2 separate regions of the Homo sapiens genome follow, and region 1 is linked to region 2. Evidence: fine-mapped expression QTL. A gene starts in region 2. The other region holds a variant in brackets. All regions are shown on one strand. Distances are from middle to middle.

Region 1 (5,376 bases), 160 kb after region 2:
ACAAGAAACAATGAATGCTATGAGGTGAATGTTTGTGTCCCCCCAAAATTCATATGTTGAAGCCTAAATCTCTGATGTGATGGCATTAGGATGTGGTGTCTTTGAAAGTTGATTAAGTCATGAGGTTAAGCCCTATTGGATGGGATTAGTGCCTTTAGGAAGAGGCCCCGGGGAGCTGTCTTGCCCTATTCTACTGTGGGTGGACATAGCAAGAAATTATCTGTGAACCAAGAAGTAGGTCTTCATCAGACATGGAATCTGCCAGCACCTTGGCCTTTGATTTCCCAGCCTCCAGAATTGTGACAAGTAAATTTCTGTTATGTTACCCTGTTTATGGTACTTTGTTATAACAGCCTGAATAGACTAAGAGAATGGAGAAGTAACTTAGCTGCTGTAGACCCCACTTTACTCATCTATAGAACATTTGATTTTAGAGAGGTGTAAAAAAGTTAACATATGAAAAGTGCCTAGTACAGAGCGAGCCCTCTGTAAAGAGTAGTTGTCATTTTAAAATTAAATAAAACTTAATCCCAAATGACACAGAATTCTTCCATTTTAGGGGAAAAATACAAAATCAACAGATTTAATGAGGGCTGCAAAATACTTGACAATCTCTTCATCATTTAATCACTTTTTCACCCATTCTTAACCCCTGTTGTTATTAGTAGTTCTGTACCAAATCATATATGTCATCACTGTGCCCCTTTTTGCTATAGACAAAACGTTTTTCATGTGTGGTGATGCAAATGTGGACTTTAGGGATACTAATGTAATAATGAGCCAGAAGTTAATGAACAGGAAACTGAACAAGAATGGGGCAGACAACTTGGCACCAGAGATGGCTGCGGGGCAGGAAGTATAAACTAAGCATGTCCAAAAAAGGGGAAGTGATTCGGAAGACCGTAAGGGTGAGCTAGACAAGGGGCTGCTTCTGGATCCACTGAGAACAGACTAGACTGCATGCCAAAGGCAAAACATAAATGCAAGTCCCTCTCCTCACAGCACACAAATAGAGTTTGTGATGAAGTGCCCATTTTCCTTCCCATTGCACAAGTAGTCTGTGTACAATTTACCTAAGCCCTTGGATATGTCTATTTTGTTTATTCTTGGTTCAAATGCATTCGTTCTATCATCTAGAAAATTACACATTCCTTCAAGGCAGGGACAGTGTCATTTGCTTTATATCCCTTTTAATATCCTTGACTTCCATCTGGGTGCAAAGCAACATTCAGCAGGAAAATGGAAGCCACTTTAGGAATTTTGAACAAGGAAATATACTGGAAAAGCTGGAACTGCAACAGGGAGAAAGAGGGGTGTTGGAGGAACATAAAGGAAGAAGAGGTGATCCCCAGATTCGAAGCAGTTAGCCCTTCTGGGCAGGAGCCCATGAGCTTGTTCCTGAAAGTCCAAGTGGGTTGGTGACACTTGAGTTTGACTGTGAGTTCACTCAAGAGCTGCTGTCTCAAAAAAGGAAAAAAAAAAAAAAAAAAAAAAAAAAACCAGTAAAGAAAGTGCTGGCTTTTCCTGGGCTGCTGGAGCCCAAAATCACATCAACCCTACTGCTCCTACAGCAATTGCCATCAACTGCCTCATTTTAAGATTCAGAACCAAGAATCTTTTGTCTTTATCCTGCTTTCTTATTGCTCACCAGTACCTCCAATTAGCAGAACCCAAGGGAAAGACAACTAGTAAGAGTATGAGAAATTTAGGGTGCAAACTCCTGGCTCCAGTAGTATAAGGTATAGAGGAACAGGTGTGGGCTAAAAGACAATAGGTGAATTAATCAGCACATGTGTGATAGTGGAAAGAGCCCTGAGTTTAAAATTAGAAGACCTGAAATCAAGCCGGTATCTAACTCACAGTAATAATGTGATCTTATACAAGTTACGTAAGCTCTCTGAGCCTAAATCTCTCATTTGTAAAAAGAGAAGAATAATAATAATATCTTGCAGAGTTTTGGTGAAGACTAAATGATATAATACATATGAAAACCTTTTAGAAATGATAAAAATGTCTGTGAATTTTAGTTACTTTACACAGTCCTGTTGGCAGTTATCAAATTTACTGCTTAGGAGACAATCATAAGGGTTTTAAAATAATCTACAAAAGATTTCTGCCAGTATCACAGTGTACTGCCTGCACTTAGACTTCCTTTATGACGTAGGAAAACATGACTAAATTAGGGGAGACGTGAGATCAGCGTTGCTTGTCAATTTAGCAGATTTAAAAATGTTTTTTTGCAATTCTCTTCTGATGGGTCATATCCAAAGATAAGCAGCTGAGCCCTCTTAGCAGCAGGAAGGAAGGGCAGCTAGCCTTGGGTTACACAAATGAACTTATTAAGGCGATTTATAAAGCCATCTAGTTAATCAGAAAGGAGGGGAGTGAAAAGAGCCTTTCTTAGCCAAGCCGTGATCGCCCGCTGGACAATTAGAAGCACAGTTTTCAT[G/T]ATACTGTTGTAGTCCTCAGTTGGGGTCAGGCCTATGAGCTAGGATACAGCTGGTGGGTGGATGCAGTAAGGCTGTTAATTAATCACAAGGGGGTGGAAACCAAGGATGAGGCATTCACACCGTTTGATTTTCCATGGCCCCTGTTCCACTGCATTGACCCCCGTTTTCTGGGTTGACCTCTGTTAGATTTCTATGAATTGTTGCATGTTAGGTCTTCATTTACAAGTTACCAGTGGAGTAACTTGTAAATGGATTTTAGCAAACCATTGATTTGGGCCTTCATCAGATAAAGATTGGGTTTAATGTCTTTTAAATATTTTACAGTAAAATGCTAGCTCAACCAGTGTAGGAGATTTGCTGGATTTAGCTATTCATTTGTGCTTTTAACACTCAGCTGTTTTACGCCAGTTAAAATAACAACAGCTAATTTTTTCCTAATGCTTTCTCTGTGTCAGCCACCATTCTAAGCACTTTCCACTGACTCACTTAAACTTCGTAATAACCCTATGAGATAGGAGCCGTGATCCCCATTTTTACAGATGAGGAAATTGAGGCATACAGACCTTAAGTAACTTGCATAAGGTCAGTTAGTAAGTGAGGAGCTGGGCTTTGAACCAAGGTCAGACTGGTTCCAGTGTGTATTCTTGACCACTAGGAAGCATTGCCTCTCAAAAATTGAAACTGCTGTCTCTACTGGTTTGATGATTTTTTACTTAACTCTGTGTGACATATTTAACAACACAAACTTTTGTGGATAAAACATACTCCTGAGTTAGTAAGCAAGTCTCTAAAACTTCAATTGCATCCATGTTTTCAGGTTATCCTTTCTGACTTTGATATTGTTTCAGTATTCTAACACTGGAAATTAAAATATCTAAACCGTTTTTTCACAAGTAAAGAAATGTGCTACATAAAAGGACCAGAATAAGCATCTAGTGCCAACAGAAACTTGGACATATTATTTTACCGATTAGGAAACAGTCCCAAAGGGACCAGAGCTACTTAGTAGCCATGCAAGGTCTAGACAGCATCTGGCCCTGGATGTATTTCTTACACCCAGAGCCCTGAAGCCACATAGCACTTTTAAATTAGTTGGTACCATTTTAAAAAACAGTTGATTTCATATAAAAGTTTGAATTTCTGGCTAAAAGAAAAATGAAGTGATCTGCAAAACTGGGTGTATATTTCCCTGACCACTATCAGCTAAAGCTGAGTAGCAGCACCCTGCACTGTTTAAGCGGGGCCCCAGTGCCCTTTCCTCCGCTGCACAGCTGTATTCTTTAGCTTTAACTGCTTGGCCCCCTTAGGCATTTGAGTTTGAGACCACTAAACTAATTGGAAACAAAGACTTTCTGATTTCTGTCAGGTTGTCTTTGTGTAACACCACAGTGTTCTTTCAGAAAATTACGGCCATTTAGATTTCAGATCCTTTTTTTAAATGTTTTAGTTTAAGATTATAGTCAGGTTGCAACTCCTCTTATGGAGTAATAAAATTGTGTCTCTTCCTCTATACTTTCTTTTCTCTTCTCTCTCTGTCGCTCTGTCTCTCTTCCTCTCCTGTTCTCTGTAACTTAGAGAATTTGTGGTGATATATTAGTTTCAGGCACGGTCAAAAGAAACATTGATCACTGTCTTCATTTAGATGCATTAAGTATATACATACATAACAAATATACTTAAAAACCAGTCAGTGATAACTATCGTTAGCCAGTCCTGACTCATGCTTACCTGTCAAGAAAGACACATTTGAGAAAGTACAAACTCTTTAAAATCAACTTGTCTTTTTCTATGTTGTTATGCCAGTCATTACACTGTATTAATCTCTGGTTTTCTAATTATATAGCATCAGGCATATGACCTCTAAGCATTTGCTTGTTCGCTGGCTATTTTTAACTAAAAAATAAATTGCATAATGAAACTAATTCTATTTCCCATTGAGATAGTGCATTTTGAATTACTCAGAAGGGAGTCCAATTAAGTAGTATTTATCCAAAGTAAATGCAGGAGATAATAAAATATTTCCATGGCATGTTTAATTCAGAACACTCATGCTATGTAAATTAATTTGGTGTTGGATTGAGGTTATATGGAGGAAGGAGTTGCCCAGAAATGCAGCCCTTTTCTTTTGATCTTCTATATTTTATCTGTCAACGACTGAGTGACTAGATTCTGGACTCGCCGGTTTTCGCATTGGAAATGTGACTAATCCCAAGTGGTTTTGTTCATTTTCTCTGAAAGATTTCTCTCTGAAAGTGCCCAGATGTGAGCACTCTTAACTCCAGCTTTGTAATGCTGTTTATCTGGCAGCAGAAACCCTATTTGCAATAGTTAACTATCTTTTTTACATTTGCCATGGTCCAGCAGTGCTGCAGAGCTTTGAGGCTACAGTAGCGAGTTGATGACAATCAGCAGATTCTAAAGCCTTTTCAGAACCCTGAAAGAATAGATAATGATAGTACATAATGCTGAAATGACAAAAGACATAATGGATAGTCAAATGTTGATGCAATTTAGCTTCTAAAAAACGATTACAGTTCATTTTCTTTGATTATCTTTTTCAAGTTTTAACTTTAATTCTTTATTGTTTAAGTTCTGTAAAATGGCATTCAGAAAAACATTACCACATGAAATCTGTCGGAAATGTTTAGATAGTTGTAATCACAAAGAGTAGAAATGCTTGCTTTGTACTGTACTGTTGACCCAGCTCTGTCCTTCTCTGAGAGTTGCTGATTCAACTTTTTAAGGATCTAAATGATTCCTTTTTAAATGTTTGAGGAAAATGGTTTTTAGCTTTTGTGTCAGATAAGAATGGTGTTGTTCCCATCTGAATGAGTTAAACCAAGTACAGTAGTAGTATGTTTGCTCAGGACAAGGAAGTCTGGTGGTCAGCAGTGGGAAAATACGGCACCCAACACATCATTTTAAG
Region 2 (5,376 bases):
TCAGCCTCCCAAAGTGCTGAGATTACAGGCATGAGCCACCGTACCCAGCCCCAAATTACTTAATTTTAGTTTTTGTTTTGTACTATCACTGTGGTTCCTATCTTCTCCAGAGCTTTTTCTCTTCTGGCTTTGTACTTTTTATTCAAGCATGTATTTACATTACAGACATCTTATCAAATAATTACTGCTTAAACTAGAATTTGCTGAGCACCTATTATGTCCTAGATACTGTCCAGTGCTTTCTTACAATAACCTTATGTATTAAGTATTGTTACTCTACCTGTAAAGGTAAGGGAAACTATACCTGAGAAATCATCACTCACATAAAAAAAAAAGAGAGAGATTCTATTCATGTCCTTATTCTTTCAGCAACCCCCAATAGCCTAAGTAGTCTCCCAGGCATCAGGACTAACCTGGACTTCACCAGGACCAAATATCGTCTGCCTCAACCTGGCTTCATAGACCAGGACTGGAGCCTGAAGAGAAAGAACAATTCTAAGCAGAAGTTCAAGGAGCTGTTTAAAGAGGGTCTTTATGAGATTGTAACACAGGAAGACACAAGCAATGTTGCTTCAGTGCCCGGGGGATAAATTACTACACAGAACCAGGGCAAGAACTGAAGAGAGTAGGGTGTCATTTTCCCACTTGACAGGTTTGCCCTGTGGCATTCACTGGAAAATAATGTGGACCAGAAATCAATGTTTCTCAGTGGCCGGGGTGAGGGGCAATCTTGGAAAACCAGAGTACGAAGTAGAAGGACATGGGAAGGACAGGCAAGACAACCCCAGGATTCTCAGCAATTACTGCAGTGGGGAAGGAACGGAGGGGCCTCAAGTCCTTTACACAGGGCAAAATGATGGGGCAGTGAGAGTTGATTATGGTTATCTGTGGCTTCATTTGTATTGATGAGAAATGTGGTTACACAAAAATAAATAAGACAAATTGTCCTCAAAGAAGTGAAATTTTATGGAGTCAGACATGCAAACAGATCATTAAAAGGTGACCAGCACTATTATAATAGTCCTTACAGAGGAGGTAACAACCAAGTAAGGCTCTGAAGGATGAACAAGAGTTTGCCAAATGAAAAAGAGATGGACCAATATTCTAGCTAGGAGGAACCTCACATGCAGAGGCTTAGAGTTATGGAAAATGGAGAGATAAGTTAGGAGCAGATTGTAAAGAGGCACACCAGGAGATGTGGAATTTACTTTGTAGGCAATAGAGAACCAGCCCACCAGCCCAGACTTTCAAGTAGGGGGATCATGGAATCTTTTTTTTTGCGGGGGGGAAGGTATTTTAGAGGAAAATTTGGACAATTAGTTGAGAGGTGCAAGGTACCACCTGAATGGCAGTTGGGTAAGGACTAGAGTCAGAAGAACCACTGATGGGACTGTGGAAACAACTTGTGCAATGACCCAGCAGCCAGATATCATGCTGGTTCAGGAACCGAGGGAGGCTCTGTGAGGCCAGAGCACATTTGGCTGGAGAAGGAGGAGAGGATGGCAGTAGAAGGAGAAGGAAAAGAAGGCTGCTCACTTGCATGCAGATGCTGTGAGCTGACGGGGCAAGTTCAAATTGAAGTTAGAACAGACCACTGGGGTAGTCAAGACCTTGAAGGATGAACCTGTTTCTTTTTCATTCCTGAATCTTGCCCCAGCACCTTGGAGGCTGGGGGTGGAGGAGGTGGTGAGGTGGGGTGGGGTGGTGAGGAGCTCAGAAAATGTTTTCCTGAATTAGAGAACTGAAGGAATCAAGGCTCCGCTGAGCTCACTAAGCGCTGGAGCCTGCTGTAAGTGGTCAAGTCGGGTGATACCCAGCAGACAAGTAATTTGTGTGCAGACCGGAGTAGATTACGGAGGACCCAAGGGTCAGGCTAAGGATCCTGAACACCATCCACGATAGAGTGGAGACGTGCGCTTCGGAGCCTGAACTATGCAGCAAGCAGTGTGTTTACTCAAATACTATACAGTTGGAAAATCTTAATTCTCGATTTACATTGCCAAAAAAAAAAAAAAAAAATCTCCATAATACTCCCCCATTTGTAAATAAGCAAATCCGAACTAACCCTATTCCTTGGGACCAGAAGACCCAGTTTCTACCGCGGATAGATAGCATCCGCCTTATGCTAAAAGCTCTTTTTTCTGCGGTGGTGGGGGGCGGCGGGGAGTGTTTGGAAAGAACGGTTGCAAAAACAAAACAAAACCCCCAAAACCACTCACCCAATCTCAACCACCCCAACTGATGAATTTCGAAGAAAGTGCTTTTTAAAAAAGAAAAAACTAGAAGACCACAGACCTCCCACAGAAAGCTAAACCCATGAGAGTGGCATTCAAAAACTACCCATTTTCTGGAACATCTTTTGTAGCTAAATCCCAGCCATCCTAGCCCCGGAACACTCCCGCCCTCCGTCCCCGCACCCCCACCCCCGCCGCCACACGCGCTCGCAGGCTGACGGAGGTTGGCGGTGGGGCGGCCGCTCAGGTGAGGGGCCACCCAGTCCCTCGAGGCGCCGGCGGCTGGAGCCCATTCGCTGCCGTCGCAGCAGCAGGGCAAGAGGGGGTTGGCCAGGAGGGGAGGAGGCGGAGGACGCCCGCAGGGAGTGCGGGGGAGGGGGACGGGAGGACGCTAAGGAGAGCCGGGAGGGGCAAAAGCACGGCGCGGGGAGGGGGAGCGGAGAGGGCGGGAGCGGCGGGGGCGCGCGCCGGCGCGGGGCCAGCCTCGCTTCGCCAGGGTCGCTGGCGGACGCGCGCCGCAGTCCGAGCCTCAGACGCGCGGGCGCGGGGGACGGCGCAGGGGCCGCCTGGCTGGAGCAGCCAGAGGGGATAGCTTCGTCGAGAACGGAGGACACCGGCGGTCCAGGGTCCTGGGCAGTCGCGCCAGAGCTGAGCGGAGGGCGCGGCGCGAGAACGTAAGTAGCTCCTTGCGCGTCTGGCGGTGACACTGGGTCCTGCTCGGGGGTGACGGCTGGAGCGGAGGAGGACGCGCGAGGCTGCTGCGTTGTCACTTGGACACCGCCGCGGGGTTCAGCCGAGCGCTCACCGGGCTGGCAGCGCTGCAGGAGGGGCAAAGCAGATCTCCAACTCCCTTCTCCCCTGCAGGCCCCCGACACTCCCGCGGGCGCCGAGAGGGAGCAGGGGGACCTGCGCTTGGGTGAAGGCACAGCTGAAATCCAGCAGCGCCGGCACCCACCACCCCCTCCAGCCTGTGGCCAACTTCTGCTCCGCGCCCGCACCCCACGCTTTCCGGGAAGCCCTGCCCAGAGCTCTTGCTCGTGGGCAGTTGGGCATGGAGAGCCTGCGGGCCCGGCACGGCGGCTTCCCGGGCTTGGACACGGAGGCGCGGGGCGTCACGCCACAGTGCCGGCGGGGCGAGGAGCGCGGGGGCCGGGCCGGGAGCGCACGGGCGTGTGCCTGTTCGGGCCCCTGCGGACACGTCTGGGCGTGGGCTTTGTTCGGAAGTGCGTACACCTGTGCTGACCACGGAGTTCGGGGGCGAGGCCGACTTCGCTTCTCCAGTCGCTGCCTGGAGAGGGCTCGGGGAATCGAGGCGGAACGAGAGAGACACGGAGGACAGAGGGGTGGGGCGCTTGCGGGGGCTTTGTCGGCCTTACAGGTGCGGGTCCCGGGAGTCCCTGCGCCCCGCCCTGCCTCCGAGGGCTGGGACTTGTCGGGGCCGGCGCACCGGGCTGGGGGCTGCCTGGAAAGATTGCTTTCCCAGCCCAGGCTCTTAGCGGTGGGATCTGGCATCCGCTCCGCCCGGGATGCTGTGTTGAGCCAGGAGTGATTACCCGCCCTGGAGCATCCATCTCGCAGCGAGCGCCATCTGCGCCGAGCGCCGCCCCCGGCCCCCTCCACGCCGCGCGGGTGGGCGCTGCCGCATCCTGGTCCCAGGCGGTTGGCCAGCTCAGCTACTCCCGGCCCGCATCTGCTAGAGTGCGGAGGGGGACGGGGTGTCGCAGTAGGGTGAGCAAGGGAGTCGTCATTTCTCCCAAAGCGGTGTCCTCAGGGCCGCAAGCGCTGCTGGAGGGCTCCCCGGGCCCCGGGGCTGGCGAACAGGCCGCTTCCTTCCCCGGATCGCCTCCCCTCCCGCCCGCGCCCGCGGCCACATCTTCGTCCCCCGTACGCTGGCGGGTGGCCCCTGCGCCGCGGGCACCGAGGGAGGGCGCCGAGCGGTGGCGTTTCTTTCGCACCCCGCCTCTCTCCTTCCCTTTTCTTCGCATCAGGGGCTCCAGCCCTTGGCTACCACCGGCGCAGAACTGTCCTGAGAAGAAAGCTTTCTTTTCCTTTCCGAGTCCCAGATGGTTAACGCTCAGAAGTGCGGGTCTAAGAGACTGGGCTCTTCCTCGCCCCAGGCTTTTGCAGGAGGAGATGGAGCCAAGTGTAATGAGGCAGGAAGCATTGGTTGTGCACCAGGAGCTCCCCCTGGGGTGGTCCTGGAAAGGAACACAGTAACCTCTGAATACAAACCTCGGAGGCTGGGCTGCTTTATGGGACTGCATTGTGCTAACCATGCCCTGCTGTTAAAATATTGTAATAATGGCAGTACTTGCTGAAGTACTGAAATGGAGTTAGGCAACTGATACTTGCTGCTTTAATGGTAACGATAGCCAACCGGTTTTGAGAGCTTTAGATGTGCTGGGCGCTGCGCATGTTACATGTATCATCTCATTTAATTCTCACAGCAACCCCATTTTAAAAATTAGGAAATGAAGGCTTAGAGAAACCAAGTAACTTTCCCAAGGCCACACAGCTAGGAAGTAGGGGAGTGGGATTGTTTTTGTCCTTGTGCTTTACAATCCAAGACTGAGACTGTGGCCTTTTGGAGGCTTATCAGTTTAGGGGAAACCTAAACCACTGAGTGTTCAAAACCAGGGAGATACATTACAAGCCCATTTAATTCGGAGCTCTGCAGAACTCACAGTAGCAGGCAATATTGTGATTCAGAGAACTGTATTGTGGAATAGCCTTTTATTCCCATGTAACTCCTTTACATATTCTTTTATTCCTGTTAGCTTTTAAGTACGTGGCTGTTAACCCACAATCCAACCCATTACAGTCACTGAACAACATGTTCTTAGTAACCAGGGCCTCTGTGATTACATAGATGTTCCTGGCACATCATAAAGTTTCATAAAACTTTTTTTTCTTTAAAGAAAAGGTCCCCAGCCCTGAATGTCCTTTGTACACGGTTTTGACTGCAAATGAGTTACTCCTCAAATTGGATGTTGAGTTTGAATAGGACCCTAGCATCCAATCTTAGGAAATCATTCTATTTCCTAAATATATAGAAACATGTGGGGGCATTTATGAAGATGCTCCATGTTAACTAGTAAAAAAGGAAAATTTGAACCAAAGTGGAATCAGCTATTTCTGGAAT

Which allele goes with the higher level. Alleles are on the strand shown, and positions count from the first base shown. SD is a standard deviation of normalised expression in the study named.
For the expression in neural progenitor cells of the gene that starts at base 2,715 in region 2, T is the high allele of the variant in region 1 and G is the other (large effect, 0.83 SD a copy in Aygun 2021).

Evidence for each region. PIP is the estimated chance that this variant, and not a neighbour inherited with it, causes the effect.
Region 1: its variant is fine-mapped to the expression of NRCAM in neural progenitor cells (Aygun 2021, PIP 0.95).

What each region holds. Positions count from the first base shown.
Region 1 is chr7:108,290,317-108,295,692 of GRCh38, reverse strand. The region is part of intron 3 of NRCAM (neuronal cell adhesion molecule); the gene reads left to right. Among named protein-coding and RNA genes, the nearest start is that of LAMB4, 160 kb to the right of the region's middle. The variant G/T (reference allele first, on the strand shown) is at 2,450.
Region 2 is chr7:108,453,775-108,459,150 of GRCh38, reverse strand. NRCAM (neuronal cell adhesion molecule) reads left to right here and starts at 2,715. Exons shown (of 33, transcript NM_001037132.4): 1 at 2,715-2,908.